4 separate regions of the Homo sapiens genome follow, and regions 1, 3 and 4 are each linked to region 2. Evidence: fine-mapped QTL for protein levels in blood plasma. A gene starts in region 2. Each other region holds a variant in brackets. All regions are shown on one strand. Distances are between the middles of the regions.

Region 1 (8,106 bases), 1.3 Mb after region 2:
TGTCTAGAGTCAGTGTAATGCCATGGGCTTCACATGATCTCTTTCTGAACCACTCCTAGATAGCATCCAGCCTCAGGTCTCTTCCCCTCCATCTATCTAACCTACACATCTTCCTAGAGAATCACACCCACGCTCTCTCACCCACACATCATCTGTAGACACCAGCCACATGCCTCGCTCTACTCTAGATACTTGGGAGTGGGAATGAGGAGTATGTGTTCAAGAAGACAGTCTTGATTCTTGCTCAGGCAGAGACCATGGAAAATTAAACAGGGAATTATGAAATAATTCACATGCCTTCATATTTTACCTAGGGACAAAGCATCAAATGAATAAACACACATAGTTATGTACTTTGAGTGTCCTTCTGTCAGTGTTATTCATATACTTTAAGATGAGCTGGCTGAGGGATTAAGAGGCAGCTTTTATTTCTGGTAGCTTATAGATACAAGTTCTCAGCTGCAAAGTTCTGGCTTGGGCCCCTTGTGAGTTCTTGGACTGCATGAAACTTAAAGCATGATGGTTTTTCCCAGTGGTCCCCCAGATGTGCTAGAGCATCTCTAAGGTATATATGTTAGGTCTTTTCCTAGGGGATCCCACTATGGTTATGAGAGTGAAAATATGTACAGTATGTCACAAACACCAGCTGTTACCTTGCAATAATGGCATTTCTCTCTGGAGCTGATCCTGGAAGCAGAGAAGTAACATAAATCACACTGGGAAGAGCCTTGGACTAGGAGTCAGGAGGTCAGCATTACAGCTCTCCTATTGCCCTATGTCTGGGTGGTCTCTATAAAAGTCTCTTCTCTTAAAAACCACATGATTACCTCAATAGGTGCAGAAAAGGCCTTTGATAAAATTCAACATCCTTCATGTAAAAATTCTCAGTAAACTAGGTACTGATGGACCATATCTCAAAATAGTAACAGCTATTTATGACAAGCCCACAGCCAATATCATATCGAATGGGCAAAAGCTGGAAGCATTCCCTTTGAAAACCGGTACAAGACAAGGATGCTCCCTCTTGCCACTCCTATTCAACATAGTATTGGAAGTTCTGGCTAAGATAATCAGGCAAGAGAAAGAAATAAAGGGTATTCAAATAGGAAGAGAGGAAGTCAAGTTGTCTCTGTTTGCAGATGACGTGATTTTATATTTAGAAACCCCATCATCTCAGCCCAAAACTCCTTGAACTGATAAGCAACTTCAGCAAAGTCTCGGGATACAAAATCAGTGTGCAAAAATCACAAACATTCCTTTACACCAACAATAGAAAAGCAGAGAGCCAAATCATGAATGAACTCCCATTCACAATTGCTACAAAAAGAATAAAATACCTAGCAATACAACAAACAAGGGATGTGAAGGACCTCTTCAAGGAGAACTACAAACCACTGCTCAAGGAAATAAGAGAGGGCATAGGAACAAATGGAAAACATTCCATCCTCATAAATAGGAAGAAACAATATCGTGAAAATGACCATACTGCCCAAAGTAATTTATAGATCCAATGCAATTCCCATCAACTACCTTTGACATTCTCAACAGAATTAGAAAAAACAATTTTAAATTTCGTATGGAACCAAAGAAGATCCCGTATAGCCAAGATAATCCTAAGCAAAAAGAACAAAGCTGGAGGCATCATACTACCTCACTTCAAACTATACTACAAGGCTACAGTAACCAAAACAGCATGGTACTAGTACCAAAACAGACATATAGAGCAATGGAGCAGAAGAGAGACCTCAGAAATAACACCACACGTCTACAACCATCTGATCTTCGACAAACCTGACAAAACACGCAATGGGGAAAGGATCTCCTATTCAGTAAATGGTGCTGGGAAAACTGGCTTGCCATATGGAGAAAACAAACTGGATCCCTTCCTTACACCTTATACAAAAATTAACTCAAGATGGATTAAAGCCTTAAATGTAAAACCCAAAATCATAAAAACCCTAGAAGAAAACCTGGGCAATATCATCGAGGACATAGGCATGAGCAAGGACTTCATGACAAAAATGACAAAAGAAATTGCAACAAAAGCCAAAATTGACAAATGGGATCTAATTAAACTAAAGAGCTTCTGCACAGCAAAAGAAACTATCATCAGAGTGAGTAGGCATCCTACAGAATGGGAGAAAGTTTTTGCAATCTGCCCATCTGACAAAGGTCTAATACCCAGAATCTGCAAGGAACTTAAACTTATTTATAAGAAAAAAACAAAAAACCCCATCAAAAATTGGGCAAAGGATATGAACAGACACTTCTCAAAAGACAACATTTATGTGGCCAACAAATATATGAAAAAAGTTCAACATCACTGATCATCAGAGAAATGCAAATCAAAACCACAATGAGATACCCATCTCACACCAGTCAGAATGGCGATTATTACAAAGTCAGGAAACAACAGATGCTGGCAAGGCTGTGGAGAAACAGTAACACTTTTACGCTGTTGGTGGGAATGTAAATTAGTTCAACCATTGTAGAAGACAGTAGGGCAATTCCTCAATAACCTAGAACCAGAAATACCATTTGACCCAGCAATCCCATTACTGGGCATATACCCAAAAGAATATATATCATTCTTCTATAATGACACATGCACACATATGTTTATTGCAATGCTATTTACAATAGCAAAGACATGGAAACAAACCAAATGCTCATCAATGATAGACTGGATAAAGAAAATGTGGTACGTATACACCATGGAATACTATGCAGCCATAAAAAGGAATGAGATCATGTCCTTTGCAGGGACATGGATAAAGCTGGAAACCATCATCCTCAGCAAACTAAAACAGGAACAGAAAACCAAACACCGCATGTTCTCACTCATAAGTGGGGGCTGAACATTGAGAACTCATGGGCACAGAGAGGGGAACAACACACACCAGGGCCTGTTGTGGGGAAGGGGGTTGGAAGAGGGAACTTAGAGGACAGGTCAGTAGGTGCAGCAAACCACCATGGTACGTGTATATCTTTGTAACAAACCTGCACATTCTGCACATGTATCCCATTTTTTTAGAAGAAATAAAGAAAAAAATTCTTCAATTAAAAAAATCTGTGATTAATATGAAAAAAAACTCTTGTCTTTTCTACATCTCAGGCCTCCCTTTTGCAGAGTGAAGGGATTGAAATAGATAAACATGAAGTGATATTACCCACTGTGCCAAGATTGGAGGACAAAGAGGCACTGGAGAACATTTTCTAGGTTCTTAGACAAGTTGTATTCTGATCAGGGCGTGGAAAGTTATGACAGAATTTTGTTAGGAATGTGCATAGAAAGACATCAGGACAGGTGCCAAATCTAGGAACCAGGTGTTCAGAACAGACTCAACTATCCATGTCTCAGGACTGATCAGGGATGAGAGGACATTAGAGAGACCATATGATGGCATCGAAGTGTGGCCAGAAGCCATATGCGTCTTCATGAGCCTGCATCTCAGGGTTAATTCTTCCAAGTCCTGCCCTTAGTCTGCTTCCTACTAAGGACTCTTCCTCCTCCTTTCTCTTTCTTGGAATAGTCCCAGGACTTTATTGTCTCACGAGACAGAGACTTTGCCTTCTTCATAGCTTTGCCACAGGCAGTTGATCAAATTGCATGGATGGGGAATTCTGGT[C/T]CTTATTAGAAAAACAGAGAACTTCTCCCAGATGTGACAAATGTTACACACACTTGCTCTCATTCCTTCTCCCTGTGTCTATAAAAACATCACTAACCAATTACTGCTTCTTTCCCCTTGGGCTTGGGCATAGCTTTAGGGTCTTCAGCACAGTCTTCCAAACAGCTAGTACCAATCCACTAAAGATGGCACTTAAGATGAAACTGATTGCTCAAACTAGCCTCCAGGTTGTCTCATCGATAGTTCTTTTGAGAATATAACCTTAGTATCCTCCCATGGTAAGTGGCAACGTGGTTTGAAGCTTAATTTTCAGATAAATAATGAAATAATAGGAGCTGTAAAGACAGATAGAGATAGACAGAAAAGTTTTAGGTACACTGCCTACAGAAGAGTTGGGTAACTGAGCCTATTTAAGGCTGGAACTCTGGGTCATAGACTGTGAGCATAGGCAGCTGAGCAGATGTGGCCAGGGGGTTCCCCATTTGTATCTGTCTGGGCTTAGTACAAATGGACTTCCACATGTCTCCTAGAGTGTCTGGTGTCTCCTAGAGTATCGTTTCAACTTGTTGGCTTTCATTCAGATTGGATTTTAGGTACAGACAGGATCGTGTCTACCCATCCTATCATTATTATATTCTACCAGTCTATTAAGAATTGATAAGTAATGGGCTGGTCCTGTTTCCAGCCCACTTCAATCATGTCTTAGTAATGGGGGTTTCCAAGGAAAGAATTACAATTGAGTAAGCACGTGACCTCCACATTCATATTTAATCAGATGCCAGAGGACCTTGGGCAGATCTCAGGTTGCCAGGGGTTCTACAAGAAACTGTAGGGTCTTGACTCTTAAAGGGACAAGTTTCGTCCTTTGTTGGAAATACAATAATAACAATAAATGCAAGAAAAGAAGATACAGAAGATAAGACATTGGCCTGATGTTTTAGTAGAGATCTGGCTTAAGGTGAAAGCAGTACAGACTGAAAACTTTGGTGTGAAGTTAATCCTTTAGTTTCATGTATCTTTGAAATAACATGGAAAATGTGAGCCTCAACAGAGAACCCTGAGTTGTCACCATGGCTGTATTTTAGAGTGGACTATTAATTTTCCTAATTAGAGACAGTGCAGTGCAGTAGAAAAAGATGTAGGGTCTGACATACCTGGATTTTAAACTTAACTCCATCCCTTACAATCTATCAACTTGGAACATGAACTTACTCCTCCTAACCTTCAGTTTTCTATCTACAGAAAATGGAGCAAATTGTAATTGTTTGTACTGTTTAAATGGCATTTCTCTAGGAAGATGGAAGAACCACAGTATTATATATGAGCGTATAGAGATCTGTCCATAGGCATCAGGCACTTTTAGGTCACCTGTCTTTAGCCCTGTTAGAACAGCATCTTAGACCAGCAAAATCCCAGACACTGTTCCCACCTGGGAGTCTCACTTATTCCCCCTTGTGAAGGGTAATTGTGCTTGTACAGCCGGTTCAGCCTTTTTCTATTTAGCCAGCACTCAAGTCTCACCAGTGATTCTCAGGAGGCCAGCAATGAATATTGTTTAAATAGAAAATGTTGTTTGTGCATGCAGTGTCAATGAAGATGTTATTAATACAGCTCCAGGAAAGCAGCTGCTGCCAACCGGCTGGAGAAGCCACAGCCCCATACAGAGCCTGTCCCACAATTTCAGGGCTGAGAGGCACTTAAAAGGCATCAGGTCTAACCTCTGTCCTATGACCATCTGACCTAGATAGGCTCCAGCAGTTCCAAGGGAAGGACACCTACCAACCATCTTAACCCATAATGTGGTTTTTCCATCTCTGGATAAATCTGTTCATTACAACTTTTGTGTTTGTTTTCCAGCATTGGCCTCAAATTTGCTTTTTAAGAATATTCTCTCATTGATGATAATTCAGATCCTTGTGACTACACGGTACAAATAAAATATCCCTTCCTTGTGACAGTTGTGGCTTCAGGGAGGTGTCTCTACTTGCAGGTTAAGCCTTCCCAGTTTTCCCAAGGATCCTTCAGATATCGTGGCTACTGACCTCTATTGCGTCAGACCCATGTCCCAGCTCCACCTTGGACTAGCTGGCTGTGCAGTCTTAGGCAAGCATCCTTATCTCACCCAAACCCCAGTTTCCTCATGTGTGAAGCAAGAAACACGCATGGGTATACATTTACTTAAAATAGTATGGGGCTTGAGGGATGTGAAATTTAAATGAGAACAGTTATAATATGCTTGACACAGTGCCTGGCACATAGTAGGCACTCAGTAATTATGAGTGATCATTATTGTTGTTTTATCATTCAGCTTGGAGCACAGTACCCTAGGTGCGCTCTAATTAACCCATAATTGATCAGAACAATTAGGTTTCATCAGAGCCTATAAAACTATTAAATGAGCTAGGTCCTACTTACTTTTCCACTCTCACCTCTCACTTGTCATTTTCTGTGTTGGCCATACCCCATCTGCATTGGTCTCCTTCCATTTCTTTGCATAAGCCAGAATCTGTCATATCTTGAGGTCTTCACACATGCTGTCCTCTCCTCGGGGCATGCTTTCTCTTTCCATCTGGATGCACACACTTTTCACGATTTCCCTCTTTTCAAGGTCATCTAGTTTTTCAAAACGTTACTTCCCAAAAGAAACTTTCCTTGATCACTCATCTAAACAGCCTTCCCCAATACATCTTTCACACTATTCCCTGTCTTTGCTGCTCATAACATTCACCAAAATATGCAATTATATATTGACCTGTGTGTTCACCTTCTATAATGTTTATCTTTGCTGCTAGACTTAGAACATCAACACAGGGAAACAGTCTTTTTTGTTTTTTAAAAACTGTTTTTCTCTACATGTTATAATGGTAAATGGTAAACATATAGAACAGTTGAAAGGATTGTAAGGCAAACTCTTATGTACATATTCCCTGTATTAAACAACTAACACTTTGCTGTATTATCTTTATTGCACATTTATTCATCTATCCATCCCTCTTTCTGTCTGTTCATCCATTCATTCTTTTATCTTATTTCCTAATGCATTTCAAACTGAGTTGAAGACATAAGTACACTTCACCCCTAAGCACTTCAGCATGTATATCATTATTAACCAGGGATCAATATTCATTTATGATTCTTCTTTCTTGGGTTAAAATGGACATGTAGTAAAATGCACAAGCGTTAAGTGTACAATTTGGTGAGTTTTGAAAACACATACACCTGTCTAACCCAAACCCCTATCAAGATGGAAAACATTATTGTCACTCCAATGCGTTTTCTTATGCCCTTTCTTAGTGAAACTCCAACTCCACTGACCCCAGAGGCAACTACTGTTTTGATGTTTTTCAACATCGATTTGTTTTTCCTTTTCTAAAATTGTATATAAATGGAATTATAGAACATGCATTCCTTTTTTGTAAAACTTCTTTCACTCAACATAGTATTTTTGAGATTCTTCCAAGTCTCAGCATATATCAATAGATCATTCCTTTTATTGCTGAGTAGTGTTCCATTGTATGGATATACCACAGTTTGTTTATTTGTTCCTCTGTTGATGCATCCCTAGGCTATTTTCTATTTTTGGCTATTATAGATAAAGAGATTATGAGCATTCTGTGACATTCTGTTACATTCATTTATCTTGTTTTTTGGCTACCATGAATAAAGAGGCCATGAGCATTATATTACATATTAGTATATTCTTTTATCTTATGTAAATACCTAGGAGTGGAATGTGGGTCATAGGGTAGGTATAAACTTATTTTTATAAAAAGCTGCTGGACCTTTCTTCAACATAGGTGTAGAAAGAGTCTGTTTTCTTTAGTAACATCAACCAGATAGTATGTGAATTTGGCACAAAGTAAGTGCTTAATAAATATTTGTTAAATTAATACACAGAGAAAATAAATAGAAATATAGTGACTGTTCTAATCCTTTCCTACTGTTTACTAGTGAAGTGTGACTGTTTACGAATCATTTAAGTTCCATGAGCCTTCAATATCCTTTTATGTGGGAATAATAAAATGTGCCTTAGATGCCTGAAAAGGTTAGTGCTGAAGGGCCAGGGGCATGGGGGGAGATTTTAGGAGGTGAGGGACACCATTCATTTAATACAAGCGTGCCCTTCCTTCTCTCCCTGACCTCCCCAGTCTGCAAGATTTCGGCCTGCAGCTGTCAGGGAATATGCCAAAGCCTAGGCCCAGGAGGGGTCAGGGTAGGTGAAAGGGGAAGAGGCACTTGGATCAACCATTGGTTGCTCTCAAATGTCTAAAGTTGGCATTTATATACTTGACTTCTCTCACAGTTTCTCTCCTTCAGATTTAACGTCTAGGTTTCTCTGATTTTAAAACTGGGTTATTTGAATGTCAAACTTTCGATAACCCTTTAATAGAGGTGTCCATTAACCTGTGCTAAATTAGAGCCCAGCGTCCCTGGAAATACATGTGACACCCACATGAATACCAAATGCCTTCATTAG
Region 2 (8,085 bases):
GTGGCATAGGTTGTACACTGTAAAACATAGGTTGTACCAGGTTGAGGAAACAAAAGTCTTTCTCTAATTTGTCCACCAGTAGTATGCATCTTTTTCTCCACTAGCCAGGGGCTATGGAGGCCCTGAATAGAACAGAAGAGCAGCTAGCAAGGGCGGAAGGAAGAGAGAGAAGGGAAGCACAGCGTGGGATAGACTGGGAGGCCATGAGGACTGTTAAGGGCTCTAGGTTTTGTTCCAAAAGATAAGGCAAGCCACTGGAGAGTTTTGAGCAGAAGAATGTTACAATCCAATTCACATTTGTAAAAGAGCCCTCTGGCTGCTGGGGAGACTAGCTGGTAGATATGGACACACACCTGCCATCCCCCACCCTCATTCTCTTTGGAGTTAACCCCCTTCTACACCTGCCCTCTACTTTCTGTAACATATAGGCACCCCCTGCTCCACACTCTATAGAAAAAAAAAAAAAAATGCAATTATTAGGTTGGTGCAAAAGTAATTGCGGTTTTTGCCATTACTTTTAATGCAAAAACCGCAATTACTTTTTTTTTTTGGAGACAGAGTCTCGCTCTGTCACCCAGGCTGGAATGCAGTGGTGTGATCTTGGCTCACTGCAACCTCTGCCTCCCGGATTCAAACCGTTCTCCTGCCTCAGCCTCCCAAGTATCTGGGATTACAGTCTCACACCAGTACGCGCGGCTAATATTTTGTGTACATATATTTTTAAATATAGACAGGGTTTCTCCATGTTGGCCAGAGTGGTCTCCAACTCCTGACCTCAAGTGATCCACCCACCTTGGCCTTCCAAAGTGCTGGGATTACAAGTGTGAGCCACTGAATCCAGTCTTGGCCGTTACTTTTAATGCCAAAAAAAATAATTACTTTTCCATCAACCTAAATCTTTCTTGGACCTGAAGATTGGTGCATGAAACACATTGTGCCTGCGAACTTCTCTCTAATGGCTGAGGAAAGGCAGTTGCTTGGGGGTTAGGGTTTGAGCAGCATTCCCCAACACACTCCAAAGGTTCTGCCAAGTTGGCTACAGAACCACTATTTGAGCAGCTTCTCCCTTCAGGCTAAGCATTGTCTGCTGCAGATGACTGCAAATGTGTGTTTGGGGTTTCTTTGGGTGACGTTGAAAATGTTCTAAAATTAAATTCTGGATTGTACACTTTAAATGGGTGAATTTTATGTATATGAAATATATGTCAATAAAGTGGCAAAAGACAATTGAAGAAGAAAAAAAAGAATTGTTCACTCCAAACTGCCTAAAAGCTCACCATCAGAGCAGCTTCCCTTCTGGGATAAGCACAGCCTTCCTGGGGTTCCTTTTGGAAATGCTGACTTATTAAATAAATATGAGGGAGGAGTACCCTCTGCAAGGAGAGAAGGTGGGGAGGGGCACAGGAAGACTAAGCACTGTCTTCATCATTTTGCCATGTCCCGCTAGTGGCCATGAGCAGCCCTGTCCCTGGGTCTATCTCTTCAGGCTTATGATCCTATTTAATCCTCATGACAACCGCTAAAGGTAGCCAAGGTTGCCCTTGTTTTTCAGATGAGGAGTCTCTAGAAAAGTCGTGTGGCCTGCTAAGCTAACTGTTCAGAGCCTGGGCTCTGGAGTCACCTGGCGGTGGTTTCAAACATAAATCCGGCCCCCTCAAGAGCTGTGTGACTTTGCAAATGTTCCTTAACCTCTCTGGCCCTCTATTTCCTCCTTTGAAAAGGAGAGTTAAAATCTTGCCCTCTCGGCATGAGGTTATTGGGAAGAATCAGAGGTATGATTGATAGGGTCATGGCACAGTGGTTAAGAGTATGAACCATGATCCCAGATATCTTGGGTTTAAATCCCACGTCTGCTATTTACCAGCTGTGTGACTTTGGGCAGTATACTTAATTCTCAGGTTTTCTATTTCTCATCTATAAAGGGAACATCATTATAGTACCTACCTCATAAAGTTGTTATGAGAATCAAATACATGTCAAATCCGTGGTACAGGGGTTGACAACAGTAATCCAAGTTTGCTCTAATTTGAATAAACGCAGTTCTTCTTACTATACTGTAAAGACTATATCTGACCAGGTGCAGTGGCTCACGACCTGTAATCCCAGCACTTTGGAAGTCTGAGGCAGGTGGATCACTTGAGCCCAGGAGTTCGAGACCAGCCTGGGCAACATGGCGAAACCCAGTCTCCACTAAAAACACAAAAATTAGCCGGGCGTGGTGGCACACACCTGTAGTCCCAGCTACTCAGGAGGCTGACGCACGAGTATCATTTGAACCCAGAAGGCGGAGGTTGCAGTGTGCTGAGATCACACCACTGCACTCCATCCAGCCTGGGTGATGGAGTGAGACTCTGTCTCAAAAAAAAAAAAACAAAAAAAATACTATATCTGGCTACAGTAGTATTCCCAATGCCTGCCACATAGTTGGTGATCAGTAAGTATTTATTTTAAAAATGATCTGGGATTTCAACCCACATCTGCATAACTCAAAACATTTATGCCAGTGATTCTCAATGTATGATCCAGGGCTGTCTGCCTGAATGGGCCTGACCCCAAGAATCAGAGCCCCTGGCTGGCCAGAACTCTGGATTTATCCTCTCCAGTTCAGCAATAGGCTCACAGTGTAACCTGGGCCAGTTCTCCCTCTCTAGGTCTCAGTTTCCCCATCTGTAAAAGTAAGGGCTCTCTGGGGTGAGGAGCTGTTTATCCACATGACCAGCCCTGCTCCATGGGGGCTCCTGGTATCTCAAGACACGCAACCTTCAAGCCACAAAGGATCGTCACTGACGTTACTACTTTTATTTTGTAAGCCCGCATGTCTCAGGGCTCATGTGTGTGTGTCTGTGCGTGTGCGTACACAGGCACACATTCAGATCTGCAGGTGATGTGGCTTGGGGAGAGGCTGCCATAAATATTAAACTCCCAACTCCAAAGTACCCTGCAGAGATTCAGAACTGCAGGAATTCATAACATCATTCTCTTTCAAGAGTCAGTGTTCTCAGGAGTGTGGGCACCGTCATAGAAAACTATCGAAAAGGAGAGTGAAGCATTAGAGAACTGCTGAGCTTGGAGGGAACTCGGAGCTCATTTAGTCCCTTGTTCCCGAAGCTCCAAGCACAATCCGTGGTCAGCAGCATCACCCTCACCAGGGAGCTTGTTAAAATGCAGAGGCTCAGCCCCAAGAGGAACATGATGGATCAAGATTTGCATCTAAACAAGATCCCTGGGGGACTTGACTGCACGTCTTTGTTTCTGAAAAGCTGTCCTAGTCCCCAGCCCTCATCTGCATTTGGGGGAAACATGAGGAACAGAGAGGGGTGGAGTTTGTTCCAGGTCCCCCAGCCCATTAGGAGCAGGGCCTTGACAAAAAACCTGTAAGACTTTGGAAAAGGATTCAAAGCTCTCTGCGAGAGGCAGGCGTTTGCACAAAAGATGAATAAGTGCAGAAGAAATGCTCAGTGTTGCTAATTGTGTCCAACAGGGTTCAGGCAAGAAAAGAGAATCCAACTGCATTGGTTCTTGGGATTTGAATAAAGTGGCTATTTCTAGAGTTGGGGGACAAGCTTGAGGAAACCAACCAGGGACTGTTTTTCCTAAGGCTCAAGCAGCAAAGAAAAGCATCTGGGTATCCCAGCCCAAGGAGATAATAGGAGCCAAGGACAAGGCCTTATCAGGAGGGACACAGCCAACTGCCACACTTGTGATCTAGAGAAGACAGCAGGGAAAAGTGCCCTGACATCTGACCTCCTGCCATGCCACCCTCTGGCTGAACCCAAGTAGAGATGAGGAAACTGAGTCACAAAGTGCCCAAAGTCACCCCGTGGGGGAGTCAGGATTCAAATCCAGGCCATCTGGCCCCAGAGTCCATAAAGATAAACATAAGGTTTGTTTATTCCTTTGGCAATTATCTACTATTTGCTGCTCAGTATTCTAGACACTATGGATTCCAAATTCTGGGTTTTTCAAAATCTTTTCAGTAACACTTTTGTAGTGAGAATATTATCGGTGGCGAGTCCGCAACACTCCCAGCCCTTGTCTTCTCAGAGGAAAGAATTCAATTGAGAGACGCAGGCAAGTTTTAAAGCAGAGGCAAAGGTTTATTGAAAGAAGCAAAGTACAACTGAGAGATCAAGTGCCCCGCTCAACCTTTGGCTCGGGGCTTTTATACACTGGCTTGGTTCTGGGGTTTCTTCTCCTCCTTGATTCCTCCCTTCGGTGGGCTGCTGCGCCCTCCCTGCATGCGCAATGGCCTGCCAGCACTTGGGAGGGGCCGCATGCGCAGTGTGTTTACTAAGGTTGTGCGCATGCTCACTTGGGGTGATTTTCCCTTACTGGTCCGTCGCCGCAAGAAAAAGGTCATATACAAGTCAGACTCCAACATTTGCCCTTCTGCTCGACCTTACCAGGGAATTGTGGTTTGCTGGCTCCAGATGATGTCAACTATCTGTTAGGGAACTCCTCTCCCTCTTGGCGCCATTCGTGGCCACTTATCATGTCAGAGGGACAGTTTTATGATCGCCTGTCCATCATTTGATGCACTGCCATTTCTGGGGGCCCTCTCCTGCACAAGAACACAATAAACAGCCTTGTTAAAAGAGTCCCTATTTCACTGCAATAAGACTGAGTGGTGGCCAGAGTGGTAGCAGCTGTTGCTTTTGTGGAATTGGATGGACAGCCTGGTAGGAGAAAGGCCCAGGGGTTCTGACCAGCAGTGGGGTCGTGCTGCTCCCTGAGGCCTCTGCTGGGTCCTGGGCCATCAGCAGGGACCTTAGCCAGCAGTGGGCACCTGCAGGGGTGGAGGCCAGGCCTGGGCCATGTGGCAGCTCTAAGGTCCAAAGATTGCTGCTGTGGGAAATTCCCACCCCTGCAAATGACTCCCAGCCAGGGACATCCTTAAACTGCTGCCAGAGGAAGAGTGACATCTATGTCCCCATAAGATCCTTATGCTCCAGAATGTCCTCCCCCACTCTCCTCCCCTCCTGGGCAGGCTGAGGTCCAGGAAGCAAAGGCCCCTAGGCACACTGGGGATGCACCTGTGAGCCCTTTCCTGCTCCAAAGCCTCCCAAAGGCTGGCTCCTTACCCTGAGGCCTCTGCTCAGCTTGTTGCCTCCCAAGAGAACCCTGCCCTGACCAGAGTTTTGGAATGGCATCCTGCAGACCTGGACTTAAATTCCTGCTGGGTGACTGCAGCCTACATCACTTCACCCTGCCAAACCTCAGTTTCTTCATCTCAAGACAAGACTAAAATATCCACCTGGGGTTGCTGATGCAAGGATGAGAGGAGACGTGCAGCTTAACCAGCACAGCGCCTGCACATAGTAGGTGCTCAATAAATATCAGTTTCTTTCCAATTTCTGCTGGGTGCTGCAAGGATCTCAGGAAATGGAAGACTCAGCCGTGCCTGCAAGGAGCCATCAGACTGGTGGTGTGGGGACTGAGGGGAGGGACGGATGAGGATCCCAACAAACCTCAGCCCCAGTGACAGGAGCAACACGGTACAGAGGAGCAGAGAGGCCTGGACTGTGGGGTTCCCTGTGCTTAACGTGGGACATTCTGATCTTAACCTCAGTGCCTGCCAGTGCTGTTTGTGACCTATTGGGAGTCACCCTGTTAATCCCACCACATTCAGTTGGTTGAGGCCATCATGAAAACCTGCCCAATTTCAAGGGAAGGGGGCAGAAACATTACCTTTTGATGGAAGGAATATCAAAGAATTCGTGGGCATATTTTTAAAGGACCACAATTATCAAAAAGCAGAGTGGTTAATGCTGTGGTGGGGAAAGCGCAAAGGGTTCTGGGACCTCAGAGGGGACCCTTTCTAGAATCCAGAGAAGCATGGGAGTGGTCAGGGAAGGCTTCCTGGGGGTGAGGGCAAAGCAGAACTCACAAATGTAAGCAGGGCTGGGGCAAAACTCTAAAAATTAAACACAGTCTGTACTATAAATTTTGTTTTCCAGAATGAAATTTTACTATCTTTACTTACTGCGAATATATGCCCGGGACCATACCCCCAAGAAAATAAAAATTTTAGAGGCTGGGCATGGTGGCCCAAGTCTATAATCCCAGTATTTTGGAAGGCCAAGCGGGAGGCTTACTTGAGCTCAGGAGTTCGACACCAGCCTGGGCAACATAGCAAGACCTCGTCCCTACTAAAATACAAAAAATTAGCTGGACATGGTGGCTCACACCTGTAGTCCCAGCTACTTAGGGGGCTGTGGTGGGAGGATCACTTGAGCCCAGGAAGTTGAGGTTGCAGCGAGCGATGTTCATGCCACTGGACTCCTGCTTGAGCAACAGAGTAGACTTTGTCTCAAAAAATGAAAAAAGAAAAAAAAATTGTACGTATCAACAAGCAAAAACTTTTTTAACACTTATAATTCTACCCCCACAACCAGAGACAATGCCTCATGACTCCTTGCTAAATATTTTCCAGATTGTTGAACATAGAAGCCTATTTTGAACCCCCCAAAATAGAACCTTACTCTATGGTGCCATCGGAAACGGATGCCTCATGACATCCCTTTCCTTGCCAAGAAATACCTTTATTTCTGCAGCCTCACTTTAAGGGGCATGTCATAATTCATTTAACCAATGCCCTTCTGGTGGATACATGAGGTTGGGTCTCACTTCTCCTGTCCTGTTTCCCACAGCATAGCAGTGGTATCTTGGAGCAGTGATTTACTGGCACACTGACTCAATTATGTATTTAAGGGCAAGTCCCTGAAATTGAATTCCTGGGTCACAGGGCATGCAACTGTTTAAACATTTGCCAATTGCCTTCCAGAAAATTTCACCACCAGCAAGGTTTGAGAAACACTGTTTTCCCATTGGGGGAAACATTTATTTTTTAAATAAACGAGCCAATATATTTTAAAAAAGAGAGTTTGGTTGGTGCCAGATGTAGCTTCACTCTCAACCCTGCCCTCTGCTGGGGGTGAGATCTCAAGGGAGCTATGTGGCTTTTTTGAACCTCAGTTTCCTCATCTGCTAAACCAGGCCTTCCTAGCCGAGCTCTTAAGAGACTGGCTGAGATGAGGCAAGATGAACAGTGATGAATATGGGGTCTTTCTGTGGGGAGGGTGGACAGGGATGATCATAGGAGTCAGGCTTCCTCATCCACTGATCTGGGCAGTGAAAACTGGCTTCTAAGTATGACCTTATGACTTCAGTGATGTCGCAAGCAGGTTCCAGTCCCTGTGCCTCCCCTTCCCGCTCCCAGGAACCCATCCAGCCTCAGGAACTGCCCCCAGCCATCGAGCCTTGGCTACTTAAGGGACCTGGGCCCAATCCACAGCTGGGACAGTCCTGGCCCACTGCACTGGGAATCTAGGATGGGGGCCTTGGCCAGAGCCCTGCCGTCCATACTGCTGGCATTGCTGCTTACGTCCACCCCAGAGGCTCTGGGTGCCAACCCCGGCTTGGTCGCCAGGATCACCGACAAGGGACTGCAGTATGGTAAGAAGCCACATCTGCTGGCTGGACTTGGCAAACCCACGCTCCAGGCTGCTCTGGGTACAGTGGGGACAGGGAGTGGGGACACAGACCGGACCCTCTCCCTGGGGCAGTGCCACCTTCTGGGTCAGGTGGCTCTGGCTCCTATTCTGGCCTTACTGCCCACCAGCTGAGTGCCCTGGGCATGTTATTTGTGGTAGTGAGGTCCTCCACCAGCCAACAGAACACAGCTTTGCGTGCAAGTAGTTGATTTGGGAAATGATTCCAGGAAACACTGTAGGGAATCGGTACTGAGATGAGGAAGGGAGGGCAGCCAGGAGAGAGTGTGCAATTAAACCAGCCACCACCTCTGATGATGGGAACCACTCAGCTGGGAAAATTCTGCGTAAAGTTTGGAAACACATGCCTCTGAACTGGAAGTCAGAATTGTGGTCACCTCTAGAGGCAGGCAGAGACCCTGAAGGGCATGAGGGAGGTCTGCCGGGGTGCTGGAAGTTGCCATATCTTGATCCAGGTGGTGATCACATTCCTGTATAAACATTAAAAATTATTTAGCAATACCTTTAAAATTTGTGCCCGTTAGGTACTTTATGTATATTATTCCTCAATTTTAAAGAATGGGCAGGCCAGGCA
Region 3 (8,106 bases), 720 kb after region 2:
CATAATGACTGTATCCTAAGCGTGGTGTATACTATGAAAACAAAAAGCCATAAGCTTCCTTGTTCTGGTAGTAATTCCCTACCCCTCCACCCTAAGGACCAGTGAAACTGTTATGAGAGTGACCAAGAAGAAACGTCTTCTCTTGTCCTCTTCAATGTCTGAATTCTGCATCCAGCACATTATCTTCGGTGTCTCCCCCATTTACTTCCCTCGCCTTCTTCCTTAAGGAATATCAGCAATGATAATCCCAGCGACTGGCCAGGCACGGTGGCTCATGCCTGTCATCCCCGCACTTTGGGAATTGAGGCGGGAGGATCACTTGAGCTCAGAAGTTTGAAGCTGCAGTGAGCTATGATCGTGTTGCTGTGCTCCAGCCTGGATGACAGAGCGAGACCCTGTCTCAACAAAAAACAAAAAAACTCAGAAACTATAGGTACTGGTAGACATGCTAATTTCACATCTTAAGTAGACTCCTTAACTCTTTCTGTTGCACTGGCTCTCAGTCAATTTTGGGGAAATCTCTCTGGGAGGGGAACTCTCAGGTCCAAGGCTGGCAAAGGACCAATTGAGTTCCTCTTCTGGAGGACTGGGTGACACAGACACTCAGGTCACTGTGTTTGCCCTGAAGGTGGATGGCAGATGGGCTCCAAAGATGCTGGGGTACAGATCCCCTCTGCCTTTGGTAAGAGGCTGGGGAGGTCTGGCCCTGGTGGAGCCCCCAGGCTGGGACCTTTGGACCAGAGCAGCTTCATTTGTGTACCCAGTGAATCTTACGGATTTTATCACATTCTCTGTGTGCCATAATGTGAAGAACGTTGGGAAGCATTGGTGTAGGTGCAGGGGTGAAGGCAGTTGCATTGGGCCATGAGGCCATCTGTGCTTTGTTTGCTGGTCTTGGACCAGCCTCTGTTTGTGAGTATGAGCTTGTCTGGGCCTCTGTTTCTTCAATCAGTAGCACTGTAACCAGGACACTACAGCAGATATAGCCCAGGAAGGGGCCAAGGGTCTTGAAAGGGCAGAGGCAGTGGAGTGGGGACGATACAGGGAGTCTGAACTGGGAAGGGCCTTGCTAAGAAGAATGTGAAGCCTAAGGTGAGACAAGAGATTATTCGAGAGCTTGGAGCATTGATATATGAGTTGGGTATGATTGTCCCTATGTTTCAGACAAGGAAACCAAGGCTCAGAGTAGTGGAAAAGCTCACCACAGTCAACGGCAGAACTAAGTGGGCCTGAGTGCTTTCTTTTCTTAATGCTGCCCCTTGTAGCTCAAGGAAATTTGATGAAGAGTGTTTTGAAACTTCAGCTGGCTCTTGACAAGTGTTTGTGTGACATTTTGGTGGGAGAGATGGAGATATGTCTGCTGGTATTTGGGACAATTGGGTACATCGCATCAGTACCAGTGGGAATAGAGCAGCCTTGACATTTCACCATCTGAGGAATGGCAGGAGGACTGAGACCATTCTGTCGGAAGAATAGAAAACTTAGAGGGTGCGTTGAGTTGAATAATTTGCCCCAAAAGATATGTCCACTGAGAACTTGTGAATGTAGCCTTTTTTTTTTTTTTTTTTTTTGAAAAAGGAATGGCCAAGCACAGTGGCTCAAACCTGTAATCCCAGCACTTTGGGAGGCCAAGGCAGGCAGATATCCTGAGGTCAGGAGTTTGAGACCAGCCTGGCCAACATGGTGAAACCCTGTCTCTACTAAAAATACAAAAATTAGCCAGGTTTAGTGGTACATGCTTGTAATCCCAGCTACTTGGGAGACTGAGGCAGGAGAATTGCTTGAATCTGGGAGGTGGAGGTTGCAGTGAGCTGAGATTGTGCCACTGCACTCCAGCCTGGGCGGCAGGGTGAAACTCTGTCTCAAAAAAAAGAAAAAAAAAAAAAGAAAAGAAAAAAGAACAAGAAAAAAAAAGATAAAAGGAGTTCTTGCAGATGCAGTTAAACTAAGGATCTTAAGATGAGATCATTTGGGATTATCTGGGTAAGCCCTAAATGCAGAAGAGGAAAAGACATAGACAGAGGAGAAGCTGCTGTGGAGACAGAGGCAGAGACTGGAGAGGTGCAGCTGCAAGCCGGAAATGCCAAAGACTGCGGGCGGCTGCAGGAGCTCAGAGACAGGCATGGGACAGGTTCTCTCTCGGACCCTCCAGGAGGAACCAATCCGGCCAACACCTCTATTTTGGACTGCCCTCCTTCTCAGAACTGTGTGAGAAGGAGAAATGTCTGTTGTTTGACATCACCAAGCTTGTGGCCATTTGGTACGGCAGCCCTGGGGAACTCATACTGGGGGGTAGGATGCCGTCCTCAAAGAAATGAGGGTTGTCATGTGGAAGAGGGACCCTACTCACTCTGTGTCCCTGGAGGAATGTGAGCTTTCCTCTGAGCTTCTAGGTCCTTAGGAAAAGGGCTCCGTACAGTCAGGGGGTTCAGGGATGGAGTGGGCTGCACTGGGGAGGTGTGAGTACCCCATTACTGATATGCCACCAGGGAGTTTCAACTGGCATCTGTTGTGTAGTTGAACTTGACCATTTGTGAGGCCCCCTCCAGCCCTGAGAATCTATGCACTGGTGCAAAGAAAGAGGTAAATGTTTAGAGAGGTGACAGAGGACCTAGAGCTAATGTCCAGGATGCTGCCCAGGGGCCTTAGAGATGGTGACAATGGTTGGTGGGGATATGGGTCTGTTGGAGAGGAGGAAGAAGAGGAAGAGAGCCTGACTGCCAGGCAGGCAGGGGTATCTTTGGGGCTCTGGGAGCCCCAGCCTCTGGATTCTGCCCTCAGTGAGCTTTGCAGGACACCCTACCATACCCCCTCCCTGCTTTCTTCTGATAGAGTCGTTTCCATTTGGATATTGCCTTGAACATGATGTTCACAATCCCCAAAGGGAAGAACATCCCTCAATAAGCCACACAATTCTCCCAGCCAAGAACTTGCTGTTCCAAATTCATTAAAATTGCTGTGATATTCTCTTCCCATTTATGTGCCAAGAGCCGTTGTGGACAGAATTCATAATACCATGGAGTGGTGGATGAAACCGATTGTGCAGTCAGAAAGAAGTGAACTTATTTTATTTTATTTTTAATAAAAGTGTACCTTTCAGGTTGGCAACAAATGCGAGTGTGGGTGTGGGGAAATGGCACACTGATGTGTTTATTAAGGGAGCACAAATTGGTCCAACCCCAATGGATATCAACTTGGAAATGATATAAGATGCAAAATGTGCATGGTAGTTTTGAGTTTTTTAGTCTCTAAAATTCAGGTGGGCGGCCGGGCGCGATGGCTCACGCCTGTAATCCCAGCACTTTGGGAGGCCAAGGTGGGCGGATCACCTGAGGTCAGGAGTTCGAGACCAGCCTGGCCAATATGGTGAAACCCTGTCTCTACCAAAAAAAAAAAAAAATTAGCTGGATATGGTGACACAGTTGTAGTCCCAGCTGCTCAGGAGGCTGAGGCAGGAGAATCGCTTGAACCTGAGAGTCGGAGGTTGCAGTGAGCCAAGATGGTGCCACTGCACTCCAGGCTGGGTGACAGAGCAAGACTCTGTCTCAAAAAAAAAAAAAAAAAGTGAAATTCAGGTGGGCAAGATATGTCAGTTTTAGTTAGTCTGTGATTGAATTTGTTTTTTGTCTCAATACCTCCCTCTCCCTCCCTTTTCCACCAGAAGGTAGAAAATTAATTCTAGGTAATTCAAGATAAACTCGCCATTTGAGGGGGTCTTCAGCCCATTAAGATCTCTTCTCTTACGTTCCTTCCTGGGGGATTTTTGCTTTACCTTAGTAAAGAACCTTTCCTTGCTTCCTGGGGGGCGAGGCACTGTATTTGGGGGTGCTTATGTAGTGAGTCCTTGCTAGGCTGTGACCCCTCACTGCAACAATGGTGCTGGTGAAGGTGTCTGTGGACCAGCGCTGAGTTATCTGCGCCATTTGCTCCTTACTGTGCAGCACTGAGAGCCTTTCCGGTGTGGGTCCCAGCTCACTTTTCTGATCTTCTCAGGTGCACACACTCATTCAGCTCTTCCTCCGTGCTACTTTGGAGCTGTGAACATATAGGGGAGTCGCCTGCGGCTGCGTATCTCCCCCACCATCTCTGCTAGCATGGCTGAAGATTGCAGATGGGAGCTGGCTGGAGCCCAGGTCACCTCTACTTTCAGATCTCCAAACTCATTCAAGGCACTATCTCCCCCATCCCATACTCAGCGCCTACCTGAGCAGCATACCAACCCACACGGCCTTTCTCTGGAGACCTTCATCCCTAGTCTGTTCTCGACCTCCTCCCTCCAGCTTAGAATGTTTCCCTTGTTTTGATTCCCTTTTTGCAGGAAGAAAAGCTCACTCAACAAGCACTCTTCTGCATCTTACCTCTTGAACCTCAAAGCCAGGAACATCCCCACTTTCCTCCTCTATGCTCCTCCACATCGCTCCTTCTGCCAGGCGGGTGCCTAAATTGGAGTGAGTTCTGGGAGAAAAAAACCAATGGGGGCCAGGCATGGTGGCTCACACCTTTAATCCCACCACTTTGGGAGACCGAGGCTGGTGGATCACCTGAGGTCAGGAGTTTGAGACCAACCTGGCCAACATGGTGAAACCCCATCTCTACTAAAATACAAAAATTAGCTAGGCATGGTGGTGCGCGCCTGTAATCCCAGCTACTCAGGAGGTTGTGGCAGGAGAATCGCTTGAACCTGGGAGGCGGAGGTTGCTGTGAACCGAGATTGTGCCACTGCACTCCAGCCTGGGCGACAAGAG[T/A]GAAACTCCGTCTTACAAACAAACAAACAAACAACCCAAAAAACAATGGGGCTCATACAACACTTGTCCTTTTGTGTTCTTCTTATATGAAATATATAGACCAGTCAAATTCGTGGAGACAGTGGAATAGAGGTTACCAAGGCTGGAGGGAGGGGGAAATGGAGAGTTATTGCTTAACAGGTACAGGGTTTTGTTTGGGGTGATGTAAAAAGTCTTGGAGATGGATAATGGTGATGGTTGCACAGCAGCAAGCATGTATTTAATGTCTCTGAATGAACTGTACATTTCATACTTAAAACAACCAGTGTTATGTTATATATACATTATCATAATAAAAATAGTAAAAAATAAATAAATGCCAGCAACAGAGCAGAAAATAAAAATCCCGCATCACATCAGCCAATACTTGACAACAGCTTTCTGACTTTGACCCGTTGTTCCATTTAGGGGTCTTGAGTCTGTGGAAACCCTGGCCGGGGTGTACCCAGCTCGAGTGCAGGGGGGCGCGTAGCAGCAGCCTGGCGTGTCATCGTGAGACACGGGAGACAACCTGGGTATCCATCAATGGGGGACCAAGTGAATAAATGATGGCGGAGCCACACAATGCCGTGCTGTGCAGTGGGATGAAGAATGTGCCCTGCTCCGTGTATGTGCCGACGTGGAAGATGCCCACGATGTATTGTGCAGGGAGCAGAATAATGTGTGTGGTAGCATCTTGTTTGTGTAAAAAGGCCTATATATATGGAATGGGTATGAATTTGCTGGACATTTGAGGTAAAGGAAGTGCGACCTCCTTCTTGGCTCCCTCCCTTTTTTCTCTCTTTACCAGATAAGGATTTATATTTGCTTTCCTTACTTCTTTTTCCTCTTTCCACAACTGTGATTTTCTAATCTACGTGTCTACTGTGCCTGACAGTCATTTTCATCTTTTTTTTTTTGGAGGGGGCCCGATTCTCGCTGTGTTGCCCAGGCTGGAGTGCAGTGGCATGATCTCTGTTCACTGCAACCTCTGCCTCCTGGGTTCAAGCGATTCTCCTGCCTCAGCCTCCCAAGTAGCTGGGATTACAGACGGCTGCCACCATACCCAGCTAATTTTTGTATTTTTAGTAGAGACGAGGTTTCACCAAGTTGGTCAGGCTGGTCTCGAACTCCTGACCTCAGGTGATCCACCCACCTCGGCCTCCCAAAGCCCTGGATTACAGGCATGAGCCACAGCACCCAGCCTTCATCTATTTTTAACATGTAAAAAATTTTGAGAGATAACTAATATACAGAAAAGTGCATAAAACAGAGATGTCTAGTTTAAACTTATAAACACCCACGTATCTACCACCCAGGCCTAGACATTGAACAGTGCTAAGCACCCCCATGTGCCCTCCCCAGTTAACTCCCTCAAGAGGTAACTGCTCTTCATTTATAGTAACAATCATTGCTTTTAAAAACTCATTTTATTACCCCTGTAATCCCAGCACTTTGGGAGGCCGAGGTGGGCGGATCATGAGGTCAGGAAATCGAGACCATCCTTACTAACACGGTGAAACCCCGTCTCCACTAAAAAATACAAAAATTAGCCTGGCGTGGTGGCAGGCGCCTATAGTCCCAGCTACTCGGGAGGCTGAGGCAGGAGAATGGCGTGAACCCGGGAGGCAGAGCTTGCAGTGAGCTGAGATCGCGCCACTGCATGTCAGCCTGGGCGACAGAACGAGACTCCATCTCAAAAAAAAAAAAAAAAAAATTCATTTCATTTTGAATAAATTTAGATTGATAGAAGAGTTGCAAAAATAAACCAGAGAATTCCTGTATGCCCTTTGTATACTCACATACCCTTCACTCGCCTTCCCCTAATGGAAACATCTTACATAACCACAGCATGTTTATCAAAACTGAGATTGACACTGGTCCAACACTATTTACCGAACTACGAACTTCATGGATGTCGCCAGTTTCCCATGAATGTTCTCTTTCTGTTCCGGGATCCACTCCAGGATCCCATATTGGATTTAGTTATCATTTCTCCTTAGTTTCTTCCATCCATGACTGTTTCTTGGTCTCTTCTTGTGTTTTCATGACTTTGGCACTTATAAAGAGTGCTTGTCAGAAATTTAAGTAGAAAAGTAAGAAAAGCCAGGTAGAATCCTTGCTTTTCTTTGTAATTTTCCTCTCCTAAGTATATATCCCTGAACAACATAGTTAGGTTTGGCCTGTTTTGAATTTTATCTAAGTGAACTAATACACGCATATTCTTTTGTGTCTTACCTTTTTCATTTAACATTATGTTTTTGGGGGAACCATTCATGTTTTTGTGTGCAGCTGAAGTTCATTTTTCTTGCTGAATATTATTCCGTTGTATGGCTGTAATAATAATAATGCAATGGCTATAATTCTGGATTGTTTCTAGGTTTTGGCTATTGCAAACAATGCTGGCTGAAGCATTGTTTCTTTTTATTTTACTTTAAGTTCTAGGATACATGTGCTGAACGTGCAGGTTTGTTACATAGGTATACATGTGCCATGGTGGTTTGCTGCACCTGTCAAACTGTCATCTAGGTTTTAAGCCCCGCATGCATTAGGTATTTGTCCTAAGCATTCTTTTTTTTGAGACAGGGTCTCACTCTTGTCACCCAGGCTGGAGTGCAGTGGCCCCATCTTGGCTCACTGTAATCCCTGCCTCCCAGATTCAAGTGATTCTCCTAGTTCAGCCTCATGAGTAGCTGAGACTACAGGTGGGTGTCAACATGCCTGGCTAATTTTTTTGTTTTGTTTTGTTTTGTTTTCAGTAGAGATGGGGTTTCACCTTGTTGGCCAGGCTGGTCTCAAACTCCTGACCTCAGGGGATCCGCCTGCCTTGGCCTCCCAAAGTGCTGAGATTATAGGCATGTGCCACCACGCTCGGCAGATGGCCGAAGCATTCTTATTACATATCTCCTGAAATAGTTGGGCCCACATTTCTCTAGGAGAGGAAACCAGGAGATAAATATCCAGGAGAGGAAACTTTGGCTGAAGAATTTCCATGTCTTCAGCTGGACTAGATACTGCCAGACTTTCTTCCAAAGTGGTTTTACCAATTTAAACAGCCCCACCTGCAGCGTCAAGTTCTCAGTGTGCCCTATCATTATTTTTTCCCCTAGTCCTTAGTAACAGACATCATTATTTTTTGAAATCAAAATAAATCAGTCAAGATTCTGGCAGGAAAGAGATGTACACAAAATGCTTATAACAATGCTAGGGTTCTATTTAAGAGCATTTAATAAAGAGATTATTTATACAAGAGTGGCCAGGATGAAAGGAACCAATAAGAAATGCTGAGACACCCAGGCACTAGGGCAGCAGGAAGCTGTTGCTGCCTCTGGGGCTGAAGGGA
Region 4 (8,106 bases), 580 kb after region 2:
GTTTTGTTTAACCTTCCTGTTGTCCAGTATCTCAGTTCAACATTGCCAAGATGATGGTGCCTACCACAAAGGGTGTTCTAGGGTCAATTGTGTTCTTATTTGTATAGAACTCAGCCCATAATTTGTACCTCATTAAGCATTAGGCAGATAAGTACATTTAGAAGTTCCCTGCATCATGAGAAAACCTCTTTCGTCTAACCCACATCCTTCAGGCTGGAGTTAATTCCTCTTCCTTCAATGCTCTGATTTCTGACACTGGAGATGGATATAGGTGGGTTTTGTTTTCTTTTGTTGAGACAGGGTCTCATTCTGACAGGGTCACTCAGGTTAGACTGCAATGGTACAAACATGGCTCACTGCAGCCTCACCCTCCTGGGCTCAAGTGATCCTCCTGCCCAGCCTCCCATGTAGCTGAGCCACAGGCACGCACCACCATGCCCAGCTAATTTTTAAATATTTGGGTAGTGATGAGGTCTCACTATGTTGCCCAGGCTGGTCTCCAACTCTTAGGCTGAAGCCATCCTCCCACCTCAGCCTACCAAAGTGCTGGGATTACAGGCATGAGCCACTGCACCCAGCAGGGATTTTTTTCTTTTTAAACTAATAGATTTTTTTTTTCCGAGCAGTTTTAGAACTCTAGAAAAATGAGTGGAAAGTACAGATATTTCCCATATACACCCCCCTCCACCCTGGTTTCCCCTGTTATTAACAACTAGCATTAGTGTGGTACATATGTTATCACTGATGAGCCAATATTGATACATTATTATGAACTAAAGCCCATAGTTTACATCGGGTTTGCTCTTTGTGTCGTAACTCCTGTGGGTTTTGACAAATGCATAATGTCATGTGTCCGTCATGATAGTGTCACACAGAATGCTCTCGCCACTTGGTTTAGGTGGTTATATTAGACAGTTGAGATTGTGAACAACTGGTGAAAGAGACCAGGGCTGTCCCACTAAACAGCCCTGGTATTCTACTTACGCTTCCTCCCCAAACTCTAGCAATCACTGATCTTCTACTGTTTTCATAAGTCTTGCTTTTCCAAAATGTTATATACGTGGAATTATATAATATGTGATGCTTTCAGATTGGTGTTCTATATGGTTTTTTTTTGAGACGGAGTCTCACTTTATTGCCCAGGCTGGAGTGCAGTTGTGCAATCTTGGCTCACTGCAACCTCTGCCTCCTGGTTCAAACAATTATCCTGCCTCAGCCTCCTGAGTAGCTAGGATTAGAGGCCTGCGTCACTGCGCCTGTCTAATTTTTGTGTTTTTCTTTTAGTAGACACAAGGTTTCACCATGTTGGCCAGGCCGGTCTCGAACTCCTGACCTCAAGTGATCCATCCACCATAGCCTCCCAAAGTGCTGGGATTATAAGCGTGAGCCACCACGCTCGGCCTGTACATGTTTTTTTTTAACTGTCTAGATGATGCCAATGTGCATCCAAGATGGGATCAGTGTCTCAGATCTTTGCCACTCTAAGCATCAGCAGGAAATTCTTAGAAGTGCCAAATTGCAGGCCCCAACCCAGACCTATTGAATCAGAATATGGATTTTAACAATATCCCTAGGCAACTCACATACACATCAAAGTTTGAGAAGCACTGACTAGGACCACCAAGAAACGGTCTCTCCATGACATGGCATCAGTCTGCCTGCATAGTTCAGAAGGAGCCATTAAAAAAAAAAAAAAGGTTGGACTCGGTGGCTCATGCCTGTAATCCCAGTGCTTTGGGAGGCTGAGGTGGGAGAATCATTTGAGACCAGGAGTTCAAGACCAGCCTGTGCAACATAGTGAGGCCCTGACTCTAAAAGGAGAAAGCGAAGAAATACACACTCATAAATGGAAACTTACTATGGAAAGTGTTCTTTGCCTTATCACATATTACCATATATATATATAACATATATATGTTATATATGTTATATATGTATGTTATATATAAATACATATATATGTTATATGTACATATATGTTATATATGTACGTTTTATATATATTTATATATGTATGTTATATATAAATATATGTTAGAAAACTAGATTATAAACTAGATTATATATATATATCTTGGACATCTTTCCATGCCAGCTTGTGGAGAATTCCTTCATTCTTTTTGCCAGCTACAGAGCATGCCAATAGAAGTACTGGCCACAGTGTCCTGCTTGCCCAATGATGACTTTCAGGCTTTGCACTAATGAGAGAGAAAATCTGTGAAATGGGCTTGCTGGTGCAAAGTATACAATCTTTTCTAAAAATTTTTATCATTATTATTGTTTTTATTTTTTACTGAAGAGCTGGGGAGAGAAGAAAGGAAAAAAAGAAAAAAATTTCAGTGAAGGATGATGCAAAACTGTCCATCAAAGAGACTGTAGCAATTTACATTCTCACTTATTTCCCCATACCCCTGCCAACACTGAGTAATAACACACTTTAAACGTATTTGTCAGTGTGATATCCAAAAGTGATATTTTGTTGTTTTAATTTTTATAGTATTAACGATTAGTGGGGATGAATATTATTCCAATGCCATGTATATCTATATATTTTGCTGTGGGCTACATATTAGTATCCCCTGCCTACTATTTTTATTGGGTAGATAGGCTTTTAAAAATTGACTTTTGGCTGGGTGCGGTGGCTCATGCCTGCAATCTCAGCACTTTGGGAAGCTGAGGAGTGTGGATCACTTGAGGCCAGGAGTTCAAGATCAGCCTGGCCAGCATGGTGAAACCCCATCTCTACAAAAATACAAAAATTTGCTGGGTGTGGTGGTACGTGCCTGTAATCCCAGCTACTCGGGAGGCTGAGGCAGGAGAATTGCTTGAACCCGGGAGGCAGAGGTTGCGGTGAGCAGAGATTGCGCCACTGCACTCCAGCCTGAGAGACAGAGCAAGACTCCGTCTCAAAAAAAAAAAAAAAAGGACTTTTAAGAGCTCTTTATACTTTTAGAAAATTAGTCTCTTTTCTGTAATATATGTTGAAAATATTTTCCTAGTTTCTTCATGTGTCTTTTGACCTTGTTCCCTGTTCATGGTGATTTTTGCTGTGCTTTAAATGTTGTTGCATGTATCTATTTTTTAGTTTATAGTTTTTAGGAAGCAGCTACTTTTCAAACTCTTGTTATCCAAGGATTATTAGGTGTACAGGATCCCTGGGTAAGAATCTTTGTGAGATATGCTTCATATACAGAGGAAGGATTACAAGTGACTGAAAAACCCAACTCAAATGGACTTACACACAAGGAATTTATTGGCTTGTGCAACTGAAAAGTCTGAGCCTGGAAGGATCCTGGACTTCAAATGGGTCATCAGGATGCAGTCTCTCTTAGCCTTTCTTCATGCCAACTTTACTTGCAAGCAGACCCTTCAACATAGTATCTCCCCAGCCCTCAGCTTA[C/G]GTCATTCTTACTACCCACAGTTCCTACAGAAACTTCTCTTTCCCAGTTGTTCTAGCAAAAGTCCCAGGGTTGCTTCACTGAAGCAATTTCAGTTAAGAACTCATCCCTGGGCCAATCCCTGTAGTGAAATATGTTGACTAGCTAGGCCTTGGGTCATGATCCAGGCCCTGGAGCAAGGCCAGGGGTCGGTCAACTGTACGGAAATTCATAGATTGGGGGTTCCCCAAAGGAAAACCCTGGCCCCGATACCCAGGGAGAGAAAACAGATAGAGGAAAAGTCCAAACAATAATGCCCTCAGCAGAGAGACAGGTGGATAGTAGGTTCAGATCTTCCAGCCAGCTGGTAATGTTGTCCTTCTCACTCGCAGAACCCCAGGCTGGAGAAGCCCGTGCTACTCTCCGAATTTCCTACCAAGATCCCACGAGGTGAACTGGACATGCCTGTTGAGAATGGCCTCCGGGCTCCGGTCAGTGCCTACCAGTATGCGCTGGCCAACGGGGATGTCTGGAAGGTGCATGAGGTGCCTGACTACAGCATGGCCTATGGCAACCCTGGCGTGGCCGACGCCACCCCGCCCTGGAGCAGCTACAAGGAACAGAGCCCTCAGACGCTTCTGGAGCTGAAGCGGCAGCGGGCTGCAGCCAAGCTGCTCAGCCACCCCTTCCTTAGCACACACCTGGGCAGCAGCATGGCCAGGACGGGCGAGAGTAGCAGTGAAGGCAAGGCCCCCTTGATCGGAGGCAGAACTTCACCGTACAGCAGCAATGGGACCTCGGTATATTACACGGTCACCAGCGGAGATCCCCCACTCTTAAAGTTCAAGGCCCCCATAGAGGAGATGGAGGAGAAGGTGCATGGCTGTTGCCGTATCTCCTAGTCTCCGTGTGATGGAGGAGGGAGATGCCTGGGGAGGGGCTCCTGGAATCCAGGCCAGCCCAACAGCCCTGGCTGGGGAGGTGTCAGGGCAGCTGGGGAGAGGTGGGCTCTGCTTTTCAGAGGAACTCAGACCCCAGCCCTCAGCTGGCTGCCCATAGCATCCCATGTCCCACGTCCCGTGGTTCTGCTTCCTGCTGCATCGTCTGCCATCTGACACAAGGCCTGTCGTGGCCTCCTGGTTCACTCTGCTGTCTGATCTTGGGAGGGTGGGCTTGAGATCCCAGCTCTATTCTTGGTATAAAGGCTTCTCCGGATCAGTACATGCATGTCACATTAACACACACACACACACACATATACACACACACACAAGCTCGATCAGTGTGTGTAGGAATGACATACCTGGGCTCAGGGGAAGCAAGGGGGCTTAGAATTTGTGGGGTATTCCCAAAAGGATGGAAGTTAAGACTCAGAGTCTCATTACCACTGCCAATGTGGTTTTAGCAGGGGAGGGGACCTGCTAAGCTGAGACCCATAGTCCTGCTCAGAGTTATCCCAAAGTCTGAGCCACCAGCCACACCTGACAGGGGTGAGAAGTCCTCGCTGTGTTCAGAGGGAGCCAGGAATCTACATGGGTAGATGAGATAGACACAGACCTGCTCCCCGCAGCCTTGTTGAGAGCCACACTTCTGCCCATGCCAGGAGCCAGCTGTGTGACCATCCAGGGGTGGAGGGGGAAAACCAGGCAATTTCGTTCCTGGAATCAACCAAATCATGTTTTCCTCTTGGATGGAAGTGTCAAAGGCAGAAGGGTGTGGGAGGGGGACAAGGTCAGTATTTACCAAAGTGTATCTGATTTTAAAAATTCCTTTAGTCTGTAAAACTCCTAGAGGGAGGGAGGTAACTGAATTCACTTCTTTTTGTGGATCGTATCAAGGTCACTGGGTTTTACTGGCTGGTGCTGGGAAAATGAAGCTAAGTGAGGAGCTTCCATTGGAATGCTTTTCCAGGGAGAGAGGCCAGTTAATTTAAAAAAAACAGTCGCTAGTTAACAGCGACAGAGCCCAGCACCCTGGGGTCTTTGTGAATATCCAGACTGTTTCAGCCCAGCCCATCTCAGCCAACCCTCCTTAGACTGAGCTGTCAGAGCAAGCAATTAGGGGCCAGCCTGCCTCCACCTCCCACCCCCTTCCACCTCCATCAGTCATGTGTGCAGAGTCAGTGCTCGGGATCCCGGGCCCAGCTTTTGCCTTTTTGGGGATGCTTGGTGAGACAGATTTGCCAGTCAGCCCTTTTGAGTTCCCGCCTCACCCAGGGGCTCCCAGCCTGCACTTGCAGGAGTGGTGATGCCCCAAGTCTGCGAATCCAGGGTGCACGTGGTCAATATCCCCTCCTGCATTCAGGAGAGCCATGGTAGGGCTAGAGTTGGGTCTTGCCCAGCCCTGCAGTTTCATAGTCCCAGCCTTCCTGGTGCTGGGGAGGGAGGACTGTGAATGGCTGTTCTCCCCTCACTGCTGAGTCTCCCAGGACCCCCTTTGGAGATGCCCATGGCATGGGCACTGCCCACAGGCTCAGCCAGAACCTCTTGGTGTACCCGATAAGCTGCAGGTTATCCCTTGCTCTGTGCGCCTTTTATTTGTCCTTAAACTACCTCCTTAGAGCTCTGAAGGGGTCTCCTAGTTCCAGATTTTAATTTGGGGAACAGATCTGGGTTCTTTTTAACCCTCTTCTTTCTCAGTCTATGAGAAACTTGCCCTGAGGGGCACCTGGGCTAGGGGCTTGGGACTGGAAGACCATCCCCGCCTTGTGCCACAACTTTGGTCATGGGATCTGCTCTTTGTCATTCTTAGCCCCCTACTGTGGCCCCCATAGCCCCATAACCCAGAGAGGGAGCTGGACTTCAGGGAGCCTGAGTGATGCTTTCCCAGGAGCAGGGCAGCTGGCTGGACCAGAAAGTAGAGGGCCCATGGGAGTGACTGCACCCTTGGTGGCTGCTGGAAGGGGAGAGGTTCTCAGCATCAGGCCACCTCCACCCCAATGCCAGGATAGATGTATTCTAGAGTAGGGGTGGAGGCGGCCCAGGAGGCTGAAGACAGGTGCACAGATGCTTCCCACGACCTTGCCATTTGGGGTGGGCTCTTCAACATCTCAGGCTGTGGCTGGAACAGGACAGGATGATCTAAAACACACGTACCATTGGCTGTAAAACAGTATGAGCCCAGACTGACGCTGAAATCCCTCATGAGCCAACCTTAGCTACAAGGTAGGGAGTTCTGAGGGAAGCCGCGTGCTCCTCAGGAGAGAGCTGTTTAGGTTTTCCGATCTTTTTGCTCAGGGGCCAAACACTGAAGGCACGTACTGCCCAACCCACTGAGCGCCTGAGGCCATTCCCTCCTTTTCCGCATGCCTCCTGCCTCCTGGGCTATTCCTCTCCACCCAGAAGGCTGGGAATCCCAGCTGATTCCCTGACAGGAGCCGACTTCACACACAGGTGACTCTCAGGCATTGGCTCATGTTTTCAGCCAGGGATAAACCATCCCTTCTTGGGGCTTTAAGTCCCTGGGGAGCTTTCCCTGTAGGTCTCCTGGGTGTTGAGAGACAAGTTGGAGACCAACCTCCAATGAATGAGCCGCGGTCATTCATTAATTCACTCACGTAATTTACTGAGTAGCTGCAACATGCCAGCCTCTACGTTAGGTTCTGCGGATAAAGGAGGAATAAGACAGAGTCAGGAGAACTGTTCCTTGTGGTTTCCGTCCCTTGGGGACCACAGGCATCAGCAGTCCCATTCAAGTCACCTGAGGCAAAGTGTCTGCATCTTCGTCCAGCGACCCTTTGCTTTTCGGCTCCTAGAATCCTTAGAGTCTGAATTCCTTTAGCTGGGAACAGCTGTCATGGTCACCCCTGGATAACATTTGCCACCAAGTATAGATGCTGGATCTTGGGTTCCAGGCAGACATCATCCAGGTCCATCTGGAACTTTCAGTGATAGCTGCCTTCAGCCAGCATCTTTGGGGGACTCTATAATAGCAGCTTGAGATCAGTGTCTAGAAGACTGTTCTGCAATTTGCTGCCAAATGCATCTCAGGTTTTTAAAGTCATTGTTTCTTGCTCATGGTGGCTCATTTATTACATAGTCCCCTCACCCCACTAATGGATAATGGGAGGAAAAGTTGCTGCTTCCTTCAGCATCAAAGCCTTTCCTTGGGAATCTGCCTCCCTCCATGGCAGGGGTGGATTCGGGAGCTGGGAGTAACCAGGCAAAGTCAACCAGATGCCTAGCTCCTGCTGAGACCCAGGTCCTATGGCAGCTCCTCATTAGATTAAAGGAGACCACTTCCAAAGCAGGTGCTGCATGGCTCACCATCATATGCCCCAAACAACTGAAAGTTGGCGGTTATCACCAGACTGTGAGTTTCTGGCAAGTAGCTTGGGGAAGCTGAATAAACTCTAGGCCCAGGGCTACTAAAGACTTCAGGATAGAATTCTCCATCAAATATACAGCATAAGTAAAACTGCTCTGCACTGTTTAATCCATTTCCAAGGGGCTTAGAAAAGCTAACAAGGGTGTGTCCCCTGTCCTGCCCCACCGGTTTGCTGGCTTTGTAATAACATAAGACCATTGTGGTTGTTGGTGTCAGATACCTTCCCATCCTGAGCTCTCTCACCTACCTGCTCTCTCTCCTAGAGCAGGATACTGGGGTACTTTTAAGAAGGGTGCTCCTTTTAAGATGCCCAGAAAAGCTGTATTTAACTCTTGCTATTTGTAACTTGGGGATGGTCTCCCCTGCCCCAGGGCACATAAGAGCAAAGGCTCCAATGGTCAGT

Alleles and levels. Alleles are on the strand shown, and positions count from the first base shown. The strength of an association depends on the size of the effect and on how common the allele is.
For the plasma level of the protein whose gene starts at base 7,297 in region 2, allele T in region 1 goes with a lower level than allele C (moderate association).
In carriers of allele A in region 3, the plasma level of the protein whose gene starts at base 7,297 in region 2 tends to be lower than with T alone (weak association).
For the plasma level of the protein whose gene starts at base 7,297 in region 2, allele G in region 4 goes with a lower level than allele C (weak association).

The links. PIP is the chance, under the fine-mapping model, that this variant and not a neighbour inherited with it causes the effect. The UK Biobank Pharma Proteomics Project read protein levels with antibody pairs (Olink). The fine-mapping took linkage between variants from a reference panel, not from the people measured, so its PIPs are less certain.
Region 1: its variant is fine-mapped to the plasma level of the LBP protein (UK Biobank, PIP above 0.99).
Region 3: its variant is fine-mapped to the plasma level of the LBP protein (UK Biobank, PIP above 0.99).
Region 4: its variant is fine-mapped to the plasma level of the LBP protein (UK Biobank, PIP above 0.99).

What each region holds. Positions count from the first base shown.
Region 1 is chr20:39,608,012-39,616,117 of GRCh38, forward strand. No RefSeq gene overlaps it. Among named protein-coding and RNA genes, the nearest start is that of LINC01734, 390 kb to the left of the region's middle. The variant C/T (reference allele first, on the strand shown) is at 3,630.
Region 2 is chr20:38,339,186-38,347,270 of GRCh38, forward strand. It overlaps LBP (lipopolysaccharide binding protein), which reads left to right and starts at 7,297. Exons shown (of 15, transcript NM_004139.5): 1 at 7,297-7,455. The coding sequence starts at 7,332. RefSeq lists enhancers at 3,016-3,792, 4,573-5,350.
Region 3 is chr20:39,055,174-39,063,279 of GRCh38, forward strand. No RefSeq gene overlaps it. Among named protein-coding and RNA genes, the nearest start is that of DHX35, 97 kb to the left of the region's middle. The variant T/A (reference allele first, on the strand shown) is at 4,746.
Region 4 is chr20:38,914,388-38,922,493 of GRCh38, forward strand. It overlaps PPP1R16B (protein phosphatase 1 regulatory subunit 16B), which reads left to right. Exons shown (of 11, transcript NM_015568.4): 11 at 3,770-8,106. The coding sequence ends at 4,279. Among named protein-coding and RNA genes, the nearest start is that of FAM83D, 8.0 kb to the right of the region's middle. RefSeq lists an enhancer at 5,967-6,838. The variant C/G (reference allele first, on the strand shown) is at 3,401.